Linked DNA regions of Homo sapiens. The protein of the gene in region 3 purifies or fractionates together with the protein of the main gene of each other region. This does not show direct contact. Each region holds a gene or a part of one and is shown on either strand. Other genes may lie near its edges.

Evidence for each region.
Region 1: the proteins of TKTL2 (region 3) and USP33 purify together in Homo sapiens (co-immunoprecipitation; 3 studies listed by BioGRID and IntAct, with this or other methods). This does not show direct contact.
Region 2: the proteins of TKTL2 (region 3) and FBLN5 purify together in Homo sapiens (affinity purification with mass spectrometry; 2 studies listed by BioGRID and IntAct, with this or other methods). This does not show direct contact.

The regions. Positions count from the first base shown.
Region 1 is NC_000001.11:77,735,737-77,742,852, forward strand, and holds part of USP33 (ubiquitin carboxyl-terminal hydrolase 33), read right to left. Parts: intron 6,013-7,116; coding exon of another isoform or gene 5,962-6,012; coding exon 5,881-5,961; intron 5,694-5,880; coding exon 5,640-5,693; intron 5,204-5,639; coding exon 5,141-5,203; intron 3,682-5,140; coding exon 3,529-3,681; intron 423-3,528; coding exon 320-422; intron 1-319. UniProt on the Homo sapiens protein: Deubiquitinating enzyme involved in various processes such as centrosome duplication, cellular migration and beta-2 adrenergic receptor/ADRB2 recycling.
Region 2 is NC_000014.9:91,874,579-91,881,694, forward strand, and holds part of FBLN5 (fibulin-5 isoform 1 precursor), read right to left. Parts: intron 6,841-7,116; coding exon 6,714-6,840; intron 3,105-6,713; coding exon 2,909-3,104; intron 1-2,908. UniProt on the Homo sapiens protein: Essential for elastic fiber formation, is involved in the assembly of continuous elastin (ELN) polymer and promotes the interaction of microfibrils and ELN. Stabilizes and organizes elastic fibers in the skin, lung and vasculature.
Region 3 is NC_000004.12:163,470,039-163,478,980, forward strand, and holds TKTL2 (transketolase-like protein 2), read right to left. Parts: upstream 3,717-8,942; 5' UTR 3,697-3,716; coding exon 1,816-3,696; 3' UTR 1,057-1,815; downstream 1-1,056. UniProt on the Homo sapiens protein: Plays an essential role in total transketolase activity and cell proliferation in cancer cells; after transfection with anti-TKTL1 siRNA, total transketolase activity dramatically decreases and proliferation was significantly inhibited in cancer cells.

The sequences.
Region 1 (7,116 bases), on a different chromosome or scaffold from region 3:
TTTATACCTAATACCTCCCCATCACTGACAATAGAAAAATGAGAAACACTGTTCAAACAGACCTCAAAAGGCAAGTTAAACAAAAAGATCATAAGGCTCAACTGCAAAAGAGTAAGTAGGATCCTACCTTTGGTAAACTGACACCAGAGAAACCAAAAGTTTGTTTTGCAAATAAAATTTTACTAGGCCAAATTTCAGAGTCCTTTTGTTTTAATTATCAAGCCCATTTTACCTCCACATTTTGAAACTTTTACATTATATGGTTTTCTAAAGAAATGGGCAGTGCCATACAAAGAAGCGTTACACAGGATTAATTTACCTCTGGCCCTAAGTTCATCTTCTTCATCCGCTTCTATATCCAGATCATCAAATACGGCAACCAGAGGAGTTTTTAATGTTGTATTACTGGGTATTTTAAAATCCTTGATAACAAAAAAAGATAGCACACTTGAACAAATCCTTAAATTTAAAAAAAGTTTTAATTGTAACTTATATAACATCTATACCATAAAAATTATTGAGATGTTATTTTAATAGTGGAACCATAAGAATTTGTGGTATTAGCAATTAAACTTACATTTATATTTTGAAGGAAATAAAACCCTAGGGTAATAGCATGTCAGTCCCGCTTTATTAACATATATATTTGAGTTAAAAAGGCACTTTTTACAACCGAATTTTCTGAATTAAAACTCCACAATAACTGCAATTATGTGACAGTAAACCATAGCTAAAAAGATCTCCGAAGGATACTATCCTACACTGTCTTCTCAGATCTCATTTTCAACAGGGAAAAAGGCAAAAGTTTTTCATCATAACACATTATCTATAGACTTCTACAATCTCTCCTGATACTTATTACTGTATTTACTTTGCACACTTTTTTTTTTCCGAAACAGAGTCTCACTCTGTTGCCAGGCTGGAGTGCAGTGGCACGATCTCAGCTCACTGCAACCTCCACCTCCTGGGTTCAAACGCTTCTCCTGCCTCAGACTCCCAAGCAGCTGGGACTATAGGTGCATGCCACAACGCCCAGCTAATTTTTGTATTTTTAGTAGAGAAGGGGTTTCACCATGTTGGCCTGAATGGTCTTGATCTCTTGACCTCATGATCCGCCCACCTCGGCCTCCCAAAATGCTGGGATTACAGGTGTGAGACACCACACCCGGCCTGCACACTTTTACGTATATTAAATAGTTCAAGCACTTACTTTAAATAATAATATTCTAATATTAATTTCCAACAATTGGCTTGACTCAGAGGTTGCAACTGATAACCTGTTAGCCAAATGCTAGTAAACACTTTAAAAAAAAAAACGAAAAAAACTTTGAGCTAAAGTTTAAAAAATTCGGAGACGACAAATAAAAATCAAAATTTGAAAGTTCTCTTGTAATATCAGAAGATTGAACTACAATGAACCAACATTCAGCAACACCCAAACAGAGAAGGAAACTGAATAGCAGAAAGAATTTAGCATGTACTCTGGTTCTCCAAGTTATTATAGCCTTACTTTACCTCTAAAATGCAGGCATATGCACTAATTCCCAACGATTTTACTTTCCTGACATCTGTAGAGACTGGACATTTGAGTGGACTTCATACTTTCATTTTGTTTTCATAAAGTAATTGCTTTTAAAAAGATACATGCTCACTACAAAATATCTAAATACACAGAAGTACAGAGGCTTAAATCACCTGAAATTTTACTATCTAGAAAAAATGTCTATTTGAAAAATCTTATTAATATTTGCATGGCCTCCAATATTTTACTATTTTGCAAATATCCTGTGGTAAACTGGATTTCAACAGCATATAAGTTTTGGACCACTAAAGAAATCTATCTGAACCACTGTTTTCTTCTGAATAATTTCTTCAACAATGGGATCATAAGGAAGTTGAATGAAATTAAGTTTATGCCTTTTATGTGTTAACATATTTACAAGTCATCAGAAAATTATTAACAAGCCATCAGGAAAGTATCAGTATACTTATTCTATCAGATTCAACATTTATTAAAGTTTGTAATCTTGATCTTTTCTGGCAGAAATGGCAACAGATAGCTTATTTAACTTACTTCTCTAGTAAGTGATGCTGATAGTTTTGCCTTTATATATTATTAGTTCCTTGTGTGATTAAACTTTAGTCATAACATTACACTTTTTTCTTTTTTAAAACTTTTTCTACTTATTACCATTCAGCTATCTTCAGTGGGACAAACTTTTGTTAATAATGTAAGAGGATTCAACGAAACGGCCATTTTCATACTATCTGGACTTTTGAAAAAGACTAAACATGTTTGTGAATGATAAATAGGTATAAGTGGGAGAAACAGTAATGGTTATAATTAACTAGAGCCATTCAACTGAGAAACTGAAAATGCAAGAAATTATTCTTTGACTAAAATCTAGCCATCTTTCATGTGTAAGGCAAGCAAATTTATTATCACAAATATCTACCATAAGAATGTGATACAAACATACAACAGAAAAACCTGACAGTTGGTATCAATGAACAAGTACAGAAATATGTGATTTCTATAACACACATGAGGAAAAAAACTTGCTGTTAATCAAATCTGATCAAATTCTGATCAACTGATGATCTGATTAAGAAGCCAACTATTCTAAGTTAATTTCCTTTTTCCTATTTTTCTATGACTTTAAGAATTCTGAAAATTAAGTGATAAATTCTGCAAGCAAACCCATGTGTTTTCTAAGTCTCTTGATCCAAAAGGAGAAAAATCTTTTTTTCTTTTTTTTTTTTAGATGGAGTCTCACTCTGTCACCTAGGCTGGAGTGCAGTGGCAAGGTCTCGGCTCACTGCCAGCTCTGCCTCCCAGGTTCACGCCATTCTCCTGCCTCAGCCTCCAAAGTAGCTGGGAATACAGGTGCCCGCCACCACACCCGGCTAATGTTTTGTATTTTTAGTAGAGACGGGGTGTCACCATGTTAGCCAGGATGGTCTCGATCTCCTGACCTCGTGATCCAGCCGCCTTGGCCTCCCAAAGCACTGGGATTACAGGCGTGAGCCACCGCACCCAGCCCAAAGGGAGAAAAATCTTTAACCCAAAGACTGATGCTAAGCTTTATTATATTCTACTTTGTTGTCAATAATAAGTAAAATGTTCACAGTAATACAAAGGGGATGGAGGGGAGGAGAGAACGGGGAAGAGAGCTGAATTAGTAACTGCCATATGCTATCAAAGAAGGCCCACCACCTTTCTTGAAATCAGACTTACCAGAAAAAGATAAAGACTACTTGAGTCATTTAAAAAAAAAAACTTCAAAAATTCATTAGGGCCTTTTCCATCTTCAAACAGGTGGGCTTCAATCTCACCCTAATCTAGCACTCTAAGCAACACAAGAAAGGGGAGTCTGAGTGCTTTATTTGAGAGAAAAAAGGCACATTACAGAAATTTTCAAAGTACAGGTTAGGCAGTATTCCTTTTGAAAATTTCAGCTACATGACAAATTCTGAAATTATTACCGGAATGTTTTACAGCTTAACTAAGTGGATCTAGATTATTACCTGGACACTGTTTTCTTGTATTTGGTGAGGTTGTCTTACATGAGGCAATGAAGGCTGAGTTCCTAATTTCCTATCCAAAAATACTTCTTTGCTGCAAGCATAACACCATACTCGAAGAGTGGTAAGGTTCACAGTTAGATAATGCTTTGTCTCCTATATAATTTCACAGTAGAGGGAAAAGAGGAACCAAAATTACATATACTTGAAAAGACTTCTTCAAAAGATAACAGAAGATAAACTGCTTGCCTTTGATGAGTAACAATATACTCAAAAGCTAATTTAGAACATGAAAAAAATTCTTTAGATAAACTTCTAAGGTATAATAAACAGTAACAACATCTAAGCCTACTCTAGAAATTACTCTGCCATTCTCCCCTCACTATTCATTATACAAAAAGATAAACGCAAGAGTGTAAGACCTTGCTTTGCAGTCTACAAATAAATATAACACAAGAAAATAATTAACAATAGCAAGTAACTATTCTAAGAAATCAGAATGGCAAAAGAACACAAATGACATGAGTCAAGGCATAAAACAGCTCTAGCAATACAGAATATATAATCTTGGAAAGATAAAAGTCTAGCCTTTCACAACCAGAGTTCTGCTACAGAATTAAGCCCTACAAAAAATGATCTGAGTGACTAATTTATCAATTCTCCCAATGGTGGTACACAGCAAATACCATCTTAGATGCACAGAAAGAGGCAAATGATATACAATGATGACTCAGAGCTTGGGTATTCAGGCTTAATTAATTCTATAGAGGAATCCTGGTTGAGAACAGTTGATGCTGTAGAGGTATCAATGTGCATCTTAAAACAAAGTCATTCGAGAAACTTTCCATTTAGAATGGGAGCTCTACATAACACTATAGAAGAGGCATGCCAGAGTTACATGGGAAGTACCAAACAACCAGAGCAAAGCAGAAAGGTGAGTCCAGTTAGGACTATGTGCAGGAAAAGGCAATATGACATGAGCTGAGACTTAAAGAAGTTAGCCAGGCCATGTCATAAACCTAAGCACCCACTCTCTCTTGGGCTTCAACCTCCTAATATGCCAGCTATCACCTTCAAATATCTGGATATACACTTTTTTTTTTTTTTTTGAGATGGAGTTTCGCTCTTGTTGCCCAGGCTGGAGTGCAATGGCACGATCTCGGCTCACTGCAACCTCCGCCTCCCAGGTTCAAACAATTCTCCTGCCTCAGCCTCCCGAGTAGCTGGGATTACAGGTGCCCACCACCACACCCAGCTAATTTTTTTGTACTTTTAATAGAGACAGGGTTTCGCCATGTTGGCCAGGCTGGTCTCGAACTCCTGACCTCAGGTGATCCACCTGCCTTGGCCTTCCAAAGTGCTGGGATTCAGGCGTGAGCCACCATGCCTGGCCGGATGTACACTTTTGAAATCAGTGCTTTCTTAATCACAACCTCATTCTAATGTTCATCCTCCTAGCAATTCCCTTCCCCATCCTTCACAGAGAATGTAAGTGAAGTTTTAACTTAGAGTGCAAATTTGAATTACAACTTGAATTAATAATGTTATACTGGCTTTCCCTTTCCTTCAGGCACTTTTTTTAACAAGTCTTCCATTAAATTTTTTATATACATACCTGAGAATGTATGGTGCTGTGATCTACTTGTGATTCACCACAGCCAACATATGAACATCTATTCTATAAATAATTATATAGGAAGAAAAATAAGGTACTTTATAATATACATGTAAATTTATAACAGCATTACAATTACATTTACAATTAAGTTTGGATTACCTGTTTTACATTCAATGAGTAAATGACTTTCCAGTCATTAAATTTAACCAAATGTTTCCAGGCACAAAATAAAACCAGGATATATTTCTAAGCTAAAAGCTATGTCATTTCTAATAAAAGGCAAGCATAAAATAGCTGAGTGATTTACTAAAAACTACAAAAGCACTACAGATTAAGATCTTTCCAAAGTTTAATTTTTGTTATTAATAATGACCTTTTAAAAGCAAGTTTAATTTACAAAAATCACTTTAAGTATCAAAAATTTTCTGGTTATGATTATTCAGATCCAAATTTATTATTATTATAGCAATCTTTTCAGGAAAAAACATATACACACCTCCAGACATGCCCAAAGATTTGGTCCTTGGACTTTACAATCCTGACAAGTACCCTATAAAAAGAAATTAAAAAGACAACATTGGTTATATTGACACAAACACATACAATTCACTAATGCACTAATGACATCATACATATTTTTAAAATACTGCTCATAGAGTATTACAGTAATTTATGAAAATTACACATTCAAGAGAAAAGTGAATAGTTTTTCAAGGAAGAAAAAACCTGTTTCTTACAAGGGATTTTTGTATCAAATCTTCTTTTGTTATTTCACCAACTGAATCCAAATGTGGACAATGATTTCGAAAAGCTGACATTTTGTTAGGAATTTTTTCCTGTTTCCCAAGACTTTCAAAATGAGGTAACACCTATAAGAAAAGTAACACACACAAAAAAATTAATAAATGCTTACAATGCCTGCAAAGATTCCAAAAAATAAAAAAATTAAAATGTTAACATATTAAAAATGATTAAAAGATAACATAAGAATGATATAAGTTTGCCCTGTAAAAAGAGTGTATTCTCAAACATAGATGAGTTTTCAGAATTGAAGTTAATCTGAACACTGGAAATTTCTCTACTACATAAACATTTTATTAAAATTGACATCTATAAACAAATGTAAGTTTGTTTCTCCATGACTTTTGCTGCTTTTCCCCTCTCATTTCACTTTTTATAGATAAATAAAAGGGGGGAATATTCAAGTTATTCAACTGTGAAGCACTTTTATCCTTTTAAAAAAAAAATTAATCCTTAGGCTGGACTAGGAGTTGAAAAAAAAAAACTTCAAGTAGAAAGCTTCATTTTTCTACTAATAGGACCCCCTACTGATGGCATAAATTAAATCATCTGGTATCCTGGCCTTATACCAGGATAAGCACTTTATATCAGGGTTTCTCGATCCCGGCACTATTGACACTTAGGGCCAGATAATTCTTCGCTGTGAGGGATTGTCCTGTGCACTGCAGGTTATTTGGCAACATTCCCACTTCTATCCACAAGAGACAGACAGACCATCCCTGCCACCACTCTGAACTCTGATGACCAGTGTCTCTAGACTGTTTTAAATTATACCCTCTGGGGGACAAAATCTCTCCAGGTTTGAGAACCCCATTTTCATGATCTTTACAACCCCTGAAATAGGCACCATTATTAGCTTCATTTGCACATAAGGCTAAGAGATGCAAACTTTACTGATCCACAGTGTTTGGTTCAAGTAAAGCGAGTGATTTCCAAAGGTCTCAAGTCTAATTTGGTATTCCTAGATCTTTTGGTTGTACCTTTTTAATAACAGGGCTTTTCATGCTCTTAATTCAACTTTGAGGTTTGAGAACACTTTCCCAAAAAAAGTTTAGAACTTGCTAGGATAGAATGAAACAGTTTAAAAGTTTGAACTTCAGAAACACTGTAAATTTAATTTCCTTTGTGGTTTATAAGTTATTCAATAAACCATGCAGGTCTATGTAATAGTT
Region 2 (7,116 bases), on a different chromosome or scaffold from region 3:
AGTGCTCTCATCTGTAAAATCTGGACGATAAAACCATCCTATATCATAGGATTCTTGTGAAGATTAAAGGGTTACTGTATAGAAAGCACTTAGAATAGTGTCTGGCACATACAGGCACTATACACGGCTTGCTGCTGATGCTGTGTGTGGAGTTATTGGGGTTATACAGGACTTACAAAGCTGTGATCCAAAGCCAGATGTTTCCCTCATTCCATCACCCCCTCCAGCCTACATACATACTTTTTTGTTTGTTTGTTTTTGTTTTTAGAGACAGGGTCTCGCTCTGCCACCCAGGCTGGAGTGCAGTGGTGCAATCATAGCTCACTGCAGCCTTGAACTCCTGGATTCAAGTTATCTTCTCATCTCAGCCTCCAGAGTGGCTGTGGTTACAGGTCATGCCACCACACCTGGCTAATTTTTTAATCTTTTTTTGTAGAGACAGGGTCTCACTATGTTGCCCAGGCTGGACTTGAACTCCCGGGCTCCAGGGATCCTCCCACTTCAGCCTCCAGAGTAGCTGGGATTACAGGCATGAGCCCCTGTGCCCAACTCTACATATATTTTATTAAACACACTTACTAGCCTCCATCTCAATCAAGAGGGGTTTTCAAAAAAAGAAAAACTGTTTAGAGATGCAGGCCCCTGAAGTTCAAGGATGCAGAAAGTGGTACCAGACTGTCTCCAGGAGAAGTCTGGAGATGTGAGCCCTGAGCTGCCCCACACCATAGAGAGGAACGGGGAATGCAAGGAGCTGATGTTGACATCCTGAAAGGCCCTTGTGTAAGGTCTGCTGCCAGGATGCAGTGATACCCTCCACCTCACTACCACCACGGCACATCTGTATGAGACATAGCCCCAGAATTAGGGGCTGAGAGGTTTGGAGTAGCAGGTGACCAACCACAGGCCCTACTGCCCATATCAGGGACTGGTCAGTGTGAAGTCCTCAGGCAAATCTCCAAAAGACCCACAAAAGCACCCTGTGAGAGCAACAGCTTTGGGGGCTCTGCTCCTGAGGGAATACCAATGCCTGGTTACAATGGCTACAATCGGGGAGGAGCCTCACTCTTCCAGCCTTACCCTTTCTACCACCTGCTCCTCCCCTGCCAGCCCTGGAGGAGCCAGGGCCAGCACTACCATTACCGGGAGGGTGACAAGAGGACAGGGCAGAGGCCAACCACACCCCTTGCCTGCTCTGAACTAGGAGACAGGGAGAAACTTCACAGTGGGTAAGAGACAGAGAGGTTGAAGTTTCCATTTAAACTAGTACAGACTTTTGACGTGAGAGAATGAGACAATCCAATAGAAATGGAACATGCCTGTGAATCCTAGGGAATTGACGTGAGATGTAACCCAGGTGCTCACAGGTTTGATCCAACAGCGTGAGAAAAAGAAAAAGTCATTGACTGTTTCACCCCCACCACCAAACTCCACTTCTTTGATAAAAACTGTATTCCAGATAGGGCACTAAGTGGATAATCTCATCTAATCCTAAAGTAAACACTCATCTAGAGGTCCAGAGGTGTTAGGTCACATCACACAATTGTGAAATTGTTAAACTGTAGAAGACATGGCTCCAGAGCTCACATTAGAATGACTGAGTGGTTTCCCGGGGAGGGTCCCGCAGCTTCAGACAGCATGGACCCTCGGAAAGCCAGCCTTATCGGGAAGATTTCTGTCTTCCTGCCTTGTGGCCCATGACTTCATAGGGCCCAGTCTCTAATGAAAGCATATAAACGCCCATGGACCTTTTCAATATGGCTCCCCACAGTGACCCTGGAAGATCACAGCAGCATCTGTTAGAAATGCAGATTCCTGGGTGCAGTATGCTGGGTAGTAGCCCCCAAAAAGATGCAAGTCCTAAATCCTTGGAACCCGTTCCGTTATAAGGAAAAGGGTTTTTGCAGATGTGATTAAGAATCTGGACAGAGAGATTATCTGGATTGTTTGAATGGGCCCTAAATCTACTCGCAGGTGTTAATATAAGAAGGAGACAAAGGGAGATTTGATACACACAGAGGAGGAAGAGGAGGCAGCGTGACCACAGAGGCAGATATTGGAGTGATGCAGCCACAGTCAAGAAGTGCTGGCGGCCCCCGGAAGCTGGAAGAGATATGGAACGGATTCTCCTCTAGAGCCTCCAGAGGGAGCACAGCCCTGCTGACACCTGGATTTCAGCTCAGTGAAACTGATTTCAGACTCCTGGCTTCCAGAACTATGAGAGAATAAATTTCCTTTGCCTTAAGTCACCAAGTTTTTATTGTTTTTCAGAGATGGGGTCTCGCTCTGTTGCCCAGATTGGAGTACAGTGGTGTGATCTCAGCTCACTGCAACTTCGACCTCCTGGGCTCAAGCAATCCTCCCATCTCACACCACCTCCCCGCCACACTGCCCCAGGTAGCTGAGACTACAGGTGCCTGCCACCATGACCGGCTAACTTTTTTTTTTGTAGAGACAGAGTTTTGCCATGTTGCCCAAGCTGGTCTTGAGCTCCTGAGCTCAGACAATCTGTCCACCTTGGCCTCTCAAAGTGCTGGGATTACAGGCATCAGCCCCCGTGCCTGGCCTGCATAGGAGGTACTTAAGAAATACTTGTCACATGGGTTGGTTGAAAAGTGGAGACGTGAATGCCTCTCCAACAGAATATTAGGAGAAAAGAGACCTAAGATTGCATCTTGGCCTAACTTCCCATTTCACAGATGAGGATCCTGAGGCTCAGGAGGAGAAGCATCTTTTGCAAGACTACACAGAAAGTGGTGGAAACCAGGACCTTGAACCACACCCTCCACTCTTCTCTCTGCCTACCTGTCCCCCAGCCCCACTCTTACCTGCTTGCATACAGCACGTTCCTAGGAGAGACAGCACAAGGCCACTGTTACAGATGGCGTCCCCACTCCCCACTCCCTCTTACCCGCATGTAAAATTCTCTGCCCTCATTCCCAGATTTGATCTGGAAAATGTAATAGGCCCCAGGGTAGCGGGTCGTGGCTTGCATTTGGAAGATGTCAGCGGGAACGGAGCGTCCTGACACCACGTCCATGTCCCGGTACAAGATGGTAAAGGGCTGGTCTCTGCAGCCAGGGTTCTCAGCAGGACACATACAGCGGCTGTGGAAAGGGAAATCACGTGAGAACTCAAGAAATCCATTCCAGGTGCTGGCTGTGCCTACTTCCTCTCTTAAAACACTGAAAATGAGGCCACCCCATTTTTAGCATCCAAATGCCATAACTGTAGAATGTCTCTGCTCCTGGCTTGAGTCTAAAATCTCTCCAGCATGTAGGCGAGCTCTGTTTCCTAGAGAATGGACTTTTCTCACCAACCAGATGTTCTGGCTACTAAATAGAATACAAACCTTAGATCTCTGGTTTTCAGAACATTAGAACATTCTCCAAGATACTTTACATTTGCCACGTAGGCCAAATATGCCACTCCAGCCTGGGCGGCAGAGCAAGACCCTGTCTCAAAAAAACAAAACAAAAAAAAAGGAAGAAAGAAAGAAATTTTTAAAGTAAGAAACTGGATTAACAGGTCTTGGGGATCCTTGTACATTCTCTATTGTGCTCAGCCCAGTCTGCATGGAATGTTACTGAATCGAATATAATCAAATCTTGTCATTCGATAATTGATAAGCAAGAGTTAGAACTATGTACAAGATGTGACATTGGACATTTTGGAAATTCAATGAATAATAAGATCCTGACCTCAGATAGTTTACTTTCTAATAGGAGAAATAAACCACAGACACAAATATCTCTAATACAAAGCAACTATTAACAGAGTGCCCTAATATAAAATCACTGACTTTTACTACCAAAGAATGCCTGTTATAGACACCCCTTGATTCACCCCTAACACCCCCTTCCTCTGTCTCTGACCCTGCCCTGAGACTCCACCTAGGGGCCAGGGTTCACAATAGGATGAAGATGTCTGTTGAGACGCGCGGTGGTGGCCAACGCTAGGAGTCAACCTTGCTGTGTTTCTGCCACTAACTTCCAATCTATCCACAAAACCTGTTGGTTCTACTTCCAAAAGAGAGTCCACATCCAACCATCTCCAGTGCCTTCAATGCACTCTTGCCTTCTCGCCTTTGCACATGCTGTTCCTTCTGATCTTCCACTCTCTATTTAGTTAAAGTCAACTCATTTTCCCATTCCAGCCCAAGTGTCATTTTTCAGAGAGGCCTTTGGACTCCTCCATCTAAACCATCCAGCCTACTCTTCCTTTTTATAAATTTCCATTCATTCTGAGCAGAGTATGGTGTCTCATGCCTATAATCCCAGCACTTTGAAAGGCTGAGGCAGGAGGATGACTTGAGTCCAGGAGTTCAAGACCTCTGGCTTTACCAAATACATATATATGCCAGGAGCACTGGCACACACCCATAGTCCTAGCTACTTAAAAGGCTGAGGCAGGACGATTGTTTGAGCCCAAAAGGTTGAGGCTTCAATGAGCTGTGATTGCACCACTGCGCTCCAGCCTGGGTGGCAGAGCAAGTTTCATTTTTTTAAGGCTGCATCAAAATAGCCAAGTCAAAATGTCTCTAGTGCCAAAATGGCCACAATAAAGTATCATGTGCAGCATAGAAAATCATTGTTTCCTAAAAGAAGTTTGGAGGAGGGAGTGATGGCTCCCAGCTGAAGAGGACCACAAACAGCTGGGAGAGGTGGCATCTGAGCTGAAATCTGAAAGATGGGGCAGGACTGGCTATGTGGAAATGAAAGGAATGCCTTCCATATGGCCGGAAGTATGTGCACACAAGAAGGGAGGCTGGCCATTCCTGGGCACGGGTAAAGGCATGAGCAAGTCCTGTTCAGACTGGCAGGAGCACAGGACACCTGAACTGGACAAGGAGCTGGAAGGGGCTGCCGGAGTCTGACTGGACTGGAGCCTGGAGTGAGGGAGTCACGGAGCATTGTCAGCGTCATGCCAGAGACTCCACCAGTAACTCCAGCTCAGTGCTGCAAGCTGAAATGGGTCAGCTCCCCAGCCACAGACGGGGTGGCCTGGAAAAACCCAGAGAGAACCAGGAATAGAAGCTGGGAAGAGCAGCCTGGAGCTCTGCTCTGCCACAAACAGGCCTTACGTCGGGGGTCAAAGAGCCCTGTTCTAAAGGGTTGCTTAGTAGCACAGCTCTTAGCAACAAGTGAAGATGTCCCTAAAGGATCCGCCTGTCCCGGCATTATCCTCTCTTTTGCCAATTTGTTATCAAAGTGGGTACCACTGGTAAGCCATGAATTCCTCTCTTAGAGGCTGTATTCCGAGAGGGCAGGATGGGTGTGTCTGATTCATCCTTTCGTCTCCCATGCGGGGTTTGGTGTTGCTCAAGGGAAGTCGATGTGTGAACATTTGGAATATAGGAGGCCAAGGAGGAACTGAGATGGTTTAAAAAAGGGATAAAAGAGAAGGAAAAGGAACTCCTACTATGCCAGGAACAGAAAGCCACTGTCCTACTGCATTCACCTTTTGGAAGTTGTCTTCACTTTAATTCTCTCCTCAACTCTAATATTTGCCGTCTGGTGATTTAGTAAAATGTTGACCAAGATGACGTCAGAAACTTGATTAGCACCAACGAGAGAACTCTCCAGCACCTCAATACTCAACTGTCCAGCACCTCAATACTCAACTCTCCAGCACCTCAATATTCACGGAGCAGTCCAGGGAGATTGGAAGCATTCATTTCACCTGGGAGCTTGCCAGAAAGGCGGAATCTTGGGCCCCACCCCAAACCCACTGAATCACACTTTAACGAGATCACCAGGTGAGTCCTATGAGTGTTACATTTAGAAGCCAACCTCTGAAAGACCCCATGTATCCAGAACAAAGTCATTAGAGGGAAGAGGAGATTCTAGAACCCTGACTCAACTCTCGGCTTGGTTAGCTTTCTAGAGAATCTTTGCATAGCTCTGGCATGAGTAGCGGAGTGATAGAGAACTCTGTGGGAGTGTGCGTGCGTGTGTGTGTGTGTGTGTGTGTGTGTGTGTGTGTGTTTTGAGACAGAGTCTCACTCTGTCACCCAGACTGGACTGCAGTGGCACGATCTCAGCTCATTGTACCCTCCTCCTCCCAGGTTCAAGCGATTCTCATGCCTCAGCCTCCTGAGTAGCTGGGACTACAGGCCCGTGCCACCAGGCCCAGCTAATTTTTTTGGTATTTTTAGTAGAGATGGGGTTTCACCATGTTGGCCAGGCTGCTCTCAAACTCTTGAGCTCAGGCAATCCACCCACCTCAGCCTCCCAAAGTGCTGCGATTACAGTCATGAGCCACCGTGCCCAGCCTTGCATGTGTTTCTTACTGTGTGTTGTGGTCAAACATTTTGAAAAATAGTTCTTTCTTGTATATAGGGATGTGTTTCAGACCCTATAACTTGGAATGGAATGTTTTGCAAACTTTTTGACAACCTACAGTAACACACTTTGCACTGCAAACCAGTAGCACACAAAACTAAAAGATAAGTTTCAAAAAACAATATTGACTCTTGCTATGTGCAATGTACTCTGATATTTTCTATTCCAGTCTGTTCTATCTATTCTACTCTGTTCTATTCTACACACACACACACACACACACACACACACACACGCATGAGCACATGACGTAGGTAGTAGGCCAGGTCCCCTCACTTCCTGGCTGGTGCACTCTCTTTCACACCACACCTCCAACCTCCTGAGCCAGGCCCTCATCAGGTTTCTATTCCCCAGGGGGACGCCGTGACTTACTTATCACTGATCCTCAGATAAGGCTCCTCACAGCGGATGGGGTCAATGCATTTGAAGCCCCCTTGTAAATTGTAGCACGTCTGCTGCAGGTTGCACGTGTGGTTCCTGTGCTCACATTCGTTGATGTCTGAAATGCAGGGGAGACAAGAAGCGGAGGCAGGGCATTATTGGCCAGGCCAGACGCGTGGGGGTGGGGTAGGCTGGATCTTACTACAGAGCTGTACTATCCAATATGGCAGCAACAGGCCATATGTGGCTACTGAGTACTTGGAATGTGGCTGATCCAAATTGAGATGTGCTGTAAGTAGAAAATACACACCAGATTTTGATGACTTAGTACCAAGAAATAATGTGAGCCAGGCACAGTGGCTTACGTCTGTAATCCCGGTACATTGGGAGGCTG
Region 3 (8,942 bases):
AGTCAAGGGTTAGCATATGTCAGGTTGATTCTCTCCTAAGATTCCCATGGACACTTTAAAGATCTCAGCACAGATTCAAAGCTAGAGAACATTCAATATAGCAAAACTGGATATGATTCGTACTTGAAGAATTGTGGACATAAGACTCACCTGCTATTTCTTCTCTCTGGAGCTCATAGCCTCTGGTTGATAACTTGTGGAACAGAGTCTTTACAAGAGAGATTCCTAAGGGCTTCCCCTCCAGCTACAAAAAATATAATTTCTGGTGGTGTCTGAGATTCCATTAGACATAAAGAATCTGATCTACTGTCATTATTAAAGGTGTGCTTATGCATGTTTGGTTGGAAACAGACCATTTTACATGCCCACTTTCACAGCATGTACAGAAAACATGCTGTGAATACAATTAAATGATTTTTGTGTGTGTGAAACGGGGGGTAAACATATTTTACTTATTTGCATTTTCTAAACTTCTGCAATGATTTTATGTCAACTTTTTATTTCTACAAAGTAATTTTTAAATCTTATGAAAAAACAGAGCAATTTTCGTAATCATTTTACAAAAGAGGAAATTAGCTTAGAGAAAACGGGTAGTAGCAGATGAGGAGAGCCTGGTTTCTCTAATTCCCAGGTTAGTATTAATATTTTTTGGCTCTATTATACCTCCTAAGACAATGATTGCTGAGACAAATTGGTTATGCCTCCAAAGAACTTAATGAGGGTAATAAAAGTAAGGAAATAATTACCTGACATAGACACAGAGTAATTTAATTTAGTTTGGAACCTTGGGTCCATCTATGATTTGCCTGACTGGTACTTTCTTGTACTCCAAGCATATATTTACACACTGACAGCCAAAAGTCAGGAGTCTGCTTAAGGGATGGCTTTTTAGTCCATACAATCTTCTCTAGTAACTTATCTCCAGCTTCAACCTTTTTCCAGGTTTGCTTCTGGGGGTCATGACTCTCTCTGTTTCTTATTTAGACACAAGTTCTCCTTATTTAGGATTTCATCAGGAAGAAATCAAATCCCACATACACAGCACAGACTGAAGTATCTGATTTTTAAATGCTTTATTACATTAACTTTAGTATCATTAGCAGATGAATATAATCAGATTAACAAACTGGTTTGGCCACAAGGAAAAGAAAAAACATTTCTGAAGCTTCACAAAACTATGTGTGTAGTGTGCAAACTAGAACCAGTTATACTTTCATCACTTCACAGAACACAAGTAGTGTGGTGCATCAAGAGATGTTCCACTGCTGCACCATCACCTCCAAACTGTAGAGGAGAGATGAAGGCAAACTTTGGAGGAATTTCCAAGGCAACTGCAGTCAAACATTATCTGTAAAACTGCAGGTATAAATGGCATTATACAAAAGCTCAAACATCCTTCAAAACTTGGACTATTGAAGTCTACAATTAAATTTCAATTTTTTTAACTTACAAGGAAATCATACTCATTTAAGATACAGTTACCTCTACTTTAATCCCCAGCTCAGTCAGATATTTGTAGTCTTATCAGAAATATTTGTATTAGGTAGTTGTTTTATTTCCTATTCTATTGCTTACAATTTTAAAATCCACATTAATAACTCAGAGTAACATTTATACATAGATTAACAGAAAGGTAAACTTTAATTTCCAAATTAGGAATGAAGAAAGATGTTAAATGGCTTTGCTTTAAAAGAAACAGTACAACTGTATAGGTATAAATAATGGTTTTGTGACAATAAACATGAATTTAATACAAAGATACCAGTGCTTTTGGGCCAAAGCCAATAGACTTGACTTTTTAGAAATAAGCCTAGTTTACTTCATTAAAGTAAGTGTTACGGCTGCTATAATGTGTCTGGTACTGATTCCAAACATATCCAGCAATTCACTAGTTTTCCCACGTTGAGGCACTCCTGACACTGCCAGTTGATGAACAAGGATATCAGGCTCCCTGGAGACAGCTGCACAAACAGCTTCTCCAATGCCACCTTCCCTGTAGTGATCCTCCACTGTGATAACTCGGCCGCCTGTGGCTTTTGCACTGGAGATGATGGTGGCGGCATCCAGGGGTTTAATGGTAAATGGGTCGATGACACGGACAGAAATACCTTGTTGAGAAAGATGGTCAGCAGCTTCTAAGGCTTCATGGAGAGTAACTCCAGCTCCAATTACTGTGACTTTATCATTGACACCGTGGCGGACCACCTTGGCCTGGCCAATCTCAAAATTTTCTTGTGGGGTATAAATAACTGCAGTTTCTGGTTGGCTGGTTCGAATGAAGCACATTCCCTTGGTATTGGCGGCTAGATAAATAGCATGCTCTGTCGAGATGGCATCACTTGGATAGAAAACAGTACAATTGGGAATGCTTCGGAACATGGCTAGATCCTCCAGGGCCATCTGGGAGACTCCATCTTCTCCAGTGGATACCCCACAGTGGGAACCAATAAGGTTGATATTGGCTTGAGAAATGGCTCCCATTCGGAGCTGATCGAATGCTCTAGTAAAAAAGGCAGCAAAAGCACCAGCAAAAGCAATGGTTCGACCACGTGTAGCACAGCCTAGTGCCACACTTACCATGTTTTGTTCAGCAATAATACACTCTATGAAACGCTCAGGGTGTTCTTTCCTGAATATCTCAGAAAAGGTGGAGTTCATCGTGTCACCACTCAGAACAATAACTCTTTCATTTGCACGGCCCAGTTTAGCCAGAGCCAAACCATATGTTTTCTGAGTAGCTATCTTGTCACCAACTTTGTAAGCAGGTGGGGAGGTCATTTTTATATCTGTGATGCTTATTTGAGGTGAGTCTTCCACAGGCGATTTTGGTATGAGATTCTCATTGGTCTGTATCTGACTCTCAATTAATTTGACAATTGCATCTGCTCTTTCTTTTGGCACTGGCTTTCCATGCCAATTTTCTGCATCCTCAATATTTGGAATACCCCGACCTTTGAAGGTCTTGGCAACTATAGCAGTAGGCTTGTTCTTCACTTGACTTGCTTGCCAAAATGCTTGGCACAAGGCCTCCACATCATGGCCATCCACTAAGTAAGTATTCCATCCAAAGGCTTCACAGCAATTCTGGTAGATGTCTGCGCCATGCTCAAGGGGTGCAGGGCCACTTTGTCCCAAGCGGTTCACGTCGAAGACCGCCACGAGATTGTCCAAGTTGTAGTGGGAGGCAAAAGCAAAAGCCTCCCACACAGAGCCTTCTGAGGATTCGCCATCTCCCATAAGGCAGAACACCCGGTAGCTGGCCTTGTCAAGGTACTTGCCAGTATAAGCCATTCCACATGCAGTACCTAATCCCTGACCTAGGGACCCTGTTGCCACGTCAACAAACGGCAATCGGGGGGTAGGGTGTCTCTCCAAGTCGCTGTGAAGTTTCCTCAGGTTCAGCAAGTCAGATTCACTGATGTCACCCACCTCCACCCAAGCAGCATAGAGGATAGGAGCAGCATGTCCCCTGGAGAGGATGAACCGGTCGTTGTCCGGGTGTTCTGGGTCTGTCTGTTTATACTTCATCGTGTGGAAGAAGAGGACAGACACGACCTCCGCTGCACTGCAGCACGACGTGAGCTGGCCAGAACCAGAGGCACACGTGGCCCTGATGGAATGGATCCGCAGGCGGTTGGCTGTGTCCCGCAGCACCTGCACGGTCTTCACGTCGGGCTTGGCGTCGTTGGCCATCATCTCTCTTTTGTCGGTTTGGCAAAGCAAACGGCGCCGCAGCACCCCCACAACCCACCGCGGCAGTGCTCTCACGTGACCGCCCCGCCCTCGCCTCCCCTCTGCCTGAAGGCCTGAGCTCAGCCACCAGCCGGGGCGCCCACAACGGAGCTTCCCGCGAGACTGAGGAAACGGAAACGTTGGAGTAGCCTGCACCCTCTGATGTGCACCGTTCCCTCTCCCTGTCCACGCCCAGCTGAATGGATTTTTAGTATTTACTTTGTCACGTGCATGTTCAACATTAGGAAGCATAATTAAATTTTTTACCTTTCCCTGTGTTATAAATTCAAGACTAGACATTTTTCTGTGTATTATAGGAAGCGATTTGTCAGGCTGTGCTTTTTTAATGCATTAACACTATATCCGAGTCATCACTCTTTCATATCAGAACATTAATAGAAAGGATACAAAGTCACTTTCAATCTGACCAGTATGGCAATGCTATCTCAACAGAGACTTTCTCAGAGCAACCAAATATCTGAATCTCAGACTTATAGAAAGAAATGCAATGACTAATTTGACCAAAATTTATAGGAAGAACAAATCTGAAACCACCCAATTGCAGAATAGAATTGCAACTCCAGTGTGCCGTAAAGTACTATTTCTGTGTTGAAATAATTAGAAGGCCAGTAGGCTGAGGTAGCTTCAGCTCCATGAGTTCCTACCTAAGGAAAGGAAACCCAAATCAGTGTAAATGATAAAAAGGAAATTTAAGCTTAATCAATCAGAAACTGCCAGCTAACTTCTAACTGGGGACTTTCCACTGGGATGACCCAAATAAGTCTAGTACTCCACTTTAACCAATCAAATATCTTTCCTTTGCTTCCAAATTCACCCTATAAAAGCCTTCTCCTTGGCTCCTTTATCAGGAGCTACCAGATTCATGAATCACTGAATGGTCAAATAAATGCTTTAATATTTTAATGTGCCTCAGTTTATCTTTTAATGACTATTACTACAAATCATTTTTAAGACAAAGTTACTTACTTTAAAAAACTAAATTTGTGGGCCGGGTGCTGTGGCTCACACCTGTAATCCCAGCACTTTGGGAGGCCGAGGCAGGCGGATCACAAGGTCAGGAGTTCGAGACCATCCTGGCTAACACGGTGAAACCCCGTGTCTACTAAAAATACAAAAAAATTAGCTGGGCGTGGTGATGGGCACCTGTAGTCCCAGCTACTCGGGAGGCTGAGGCAGGAGAATGGCGTGAACCTGGGAGGTGGAGCTTGCAGTGAGCCCAGATTGTGCCACTGCACTCCAGCCTGGGAGACAGAGCGAGACTCCGTCTAAAACAAAAAAAACTAAATTTGTGCCATTGAACTCTTCTAGCAGGCCAAGGTTATGGTTTGTCATCAATAAAACAACAATTAAAAAAAACACAATGATAATATATCATACCTTCCCATATTGCGATGTTAAACCTCTTGGTTTCTTGAGCAATAATTCTTACCTTAACTTCACGTTAAAATTAGGGCACATAAGAAACACAATGCCTGGTTCCATCCCAGAAAAATAGAATTTGAATTTCTGGACCTGGAGTCTGGGAAGCTATGTTTCTAAAATACATCCATTGATTATAATGGGTAGTCAAGGTTAATAACATAATCTGGAGATAGTCTGAGACCAGTGGTTCTCAACATTAGTTGTAGTTTAGAATTATCTGGGAAGTTTTAAAAACATCTCATGTCCATGCTGCACTCCAGACCAATTATATCAGAATTTCTAGGCAATAGATCTAGGCGTCAGTAATTTTAAAATCTTCCCCAGGCAATTTCAATGTTCAGTCAGGGTTGTAAACAACTAACTCAGGGGGTGTTGTTACTCTTTATACTTATTATCTCTTGCATTATATCTCAGAAAAATATTTCAAATGTTATTTGCTATTTCAACTAGTTCTATCATTTTAACTTTTAAGGACACATATTAGAATAAATAGTAATAATATGACACTACTGATTTTAAGACTTGTTGCAGGAATGTTGGCATTGGAGAAGTTCTTAAGAGGTCATCATGTATCCATAACTCTCCATGTCCTTTGCAAATTAAAGCTTGTTTATCTTTTTAGACAAATAAAGGAGGAGGAAATACAAGCAGACTAGGCTAGAACTGGTAGTACAGAAGATGGGAATTAGAGAAAAAATAATAATCACAGTAAAATAATAGCAAACTACTACAGGCTGACAGGAAAGTAGTTAATATAAACACAGGTAGCTCACCATTATTTTGGCCAAAAAGAACTCTAATAAATCCACACAATTAGTAAACATGATAGTACAAAAATGATTTATGAGGCAATGTTCCCATGAATAAAAACATGGGACTTCTTAACATTTCTTTCCAAGTTCCCACATTCTTTCACTCATTTAAAACATTGCACAGCTATTTCCTAAAGTATTAAATAAAAAAATTTTAACATTAGCAAAGGTCAATTTTATTAAGAGAAGAATGTAGTCTTGGAGATTTAATACCCTAGATAGTGAGTGTGAATTTCCCTCTATCATTCTGTGAGACCGTGTGAATTTTTTATACTATATAGAAAATAATATTTTATAAATTATGTGTAAAATACTTATAAACCATTCTGAGATTTTGTAAAAGGAACTCTGGAAAGATATATATATATATATATATATAAATATATAAAAGTATATATATAGTAAAATATCTGGAAAGATATACTATATATAAAAGTATATATATTATATATAAAAACTCATATCAATATATGTAATATATATTAAGTTTATATAAAATTAATTTTATATTAATATGTTATATAAATAACATATATAAGCTGTTAATTATTTTCTTTAAGCATTTTAGTCTTTTAAATTTGAAATATATTTTAAAATATACAATTGAAAATATATAAATACAGGTAGAGCATCCCAAATTTGAAAATCTGATGTTTCCAATGCTCCAAAATCTGAAACATTTTGAGCACTGACATGTTACTCAGGGGAACTGCTCAAAGGACATTTTGGATTTGGGATTTTTCTGATTTGGAATGTTCCGTTGTTAAGTATAATGCAGATATTCCAAATTTTTTTTTAATTGAAATCCAAAACACTTCTGGTCTCAAGCAAATAATTTCAACTAAAGAATACTCAACTTGTTTAAAGTATGCACAATTTCATAATGCAAAATTACCCAATATGGCTGGGAACACAACTTCGTCAAATAAATCAAACAAAGACGTGATACCACCTTCTCCCCTATTTAGAAGACAAAATAGGGGAGCCAAACCCTATTTGGCTGACAAAATGTCAGCCAAAAACTTTTAAACCAGCACGCCAAAAATGTAGTTGTCTTGGAGAAAAGTTCATTATTCATTTTAGAGATCATTTTGGAAGCCAGTCAAAAATGTTCTGCAAATAGGAAAACATTATTCATTTATTATTAATCTTGGTTTATCCAGACAAAGCAGAGATTGGCAAATTCAAGTGCCTACTGGGATAAGGAGTTACCACGAGTGCTTGGATGTCAGCTATAAGAGGGTTAGAGGGGCCTGTGTTAAACTGGAGAATACAAGACCACTTAAAGGCATTCAAAATTGAAAAACTTATAAACATTTTGTTGGAAAAATAAAATATACCTTCAGGCTGCCACTTTTGACCCCAATTTAAAGTCTATTTAAAAGCAGCAATAATTTTTGTTTTAACTTTGCTTAAATTTTTCACTTAATTTTTTCTCATAGTATCTAAAAGTATTCATTATAGCGTGTACTTCACATGAAAACAAAATCTAACAGGATTACCAATACAAGTAGCTATGAGGGAAAAACTTAAATAGTAGCAATTGATAAGTGTAATTTCTACTGAGCTGCAGCAGAGAAAACAGAACACACAATTACCGATTACTGAGTAGGTCTACACTGATTTGTGAAAATAGATATTTTGCCATGTGAGGGTGAGTGATATTTAGGAGTTGGGAACGCTGAAATTTTACTTAAATCTTATTTAAACTGTTAAGTTTTGTTAAAATGGAATTATATAAAATACATAAATGCTGAATTCATCTTTTGCTTCCACTGTTTAAATTTGGTTGGCTTTGGAAGCTAAAGTATGGAGCAAATGAGAATAAGATTCTTGTGTAAGGCAATAAGTCTCCTGGAAAGAAAAATGTACTTTATCTTCCTGGATTATTGCTTTGAAAATTTTAACAGATGCTATTATGATGCATCTGTAGGATGCTATCCCACTTTTTCCACAGTTACAAGTCCTTATTTTGCGGTGGAGAGAGAAGGGGCAGAAGAGAGAGGTGGCAACAAATTTAAGAAACTTGGCCCAGCTCCTAGTCCCAGGAGAAAATCATAATTAATGTAGGACCAGCATCACAATGCCATTCCCTTTGGCTAGTAATGGCAGTCAGCACTTATTGACCCAGTTCTGGTCAATAAGATGTAAGTAAAAGTCTGCTTTGGGTGTAATAATTCTCATCGTTTCTTTCTTTTAGAGATGGGGTATTGCTATGTTTCTCAGGCTGGTTTTGAACTCCTGGCCTCAAGTGATCCTCCTGCCTGGTCTCCCAGCTGGTAATAATTTCTATTAAAGATTTTCTTCCTGGTAAACAGGAGAGAGTACAAGAAGAACTGTGATCTCTTCTTTTTTTTTTTTTTTTGGGATGGAGTTTTGCTCTTGTTGCTCTGTCATTTAGTAGAGACAGTGTTTCACCATGTTGACTAGGCTGGTCTTGAACTCCTGACCTCAGGTGATCCGCCCACCTCCGCCTCCCAAAGCGCTGGGATTACAGGCATGAGACACCACGCCCAGCCATTCTTTTCAACCCCTCTACCACCACCACCAGAGGATGTGTTGGAGCTATAGCAGCCAAAAGCCTAAGGATAAGGCCAGGCGCTGTAGATCAATTATTAGCCACTTTTCCTGTAAACCTAAAAGAAATTAAAATAAATAGTGCAGGCCGGGCACAGTGGCTAACGCCCAGCGCTTTGGGAGGCTGAGGTGGGCGGATTGCCTGAGGGCAGGAATTTGAGACCAGCCTGGCCAACATGGTGAAAGCCTGTCTCTACTAAAAATACAAAACTTAGCTGGGCAACGTGCTGCACATCAGTAATCCCAGCCACTTGGGAGGCTGAGGCAAGAGAATTGCTTAAACTTGGGAGGTGGAGGTTGCAGAGAGCTGAGGTGGCGCCACTGCACTCCAGCCTGGGCGATGGAGTGAGACTCCATGATTAAAAAAAAAAAAAACCT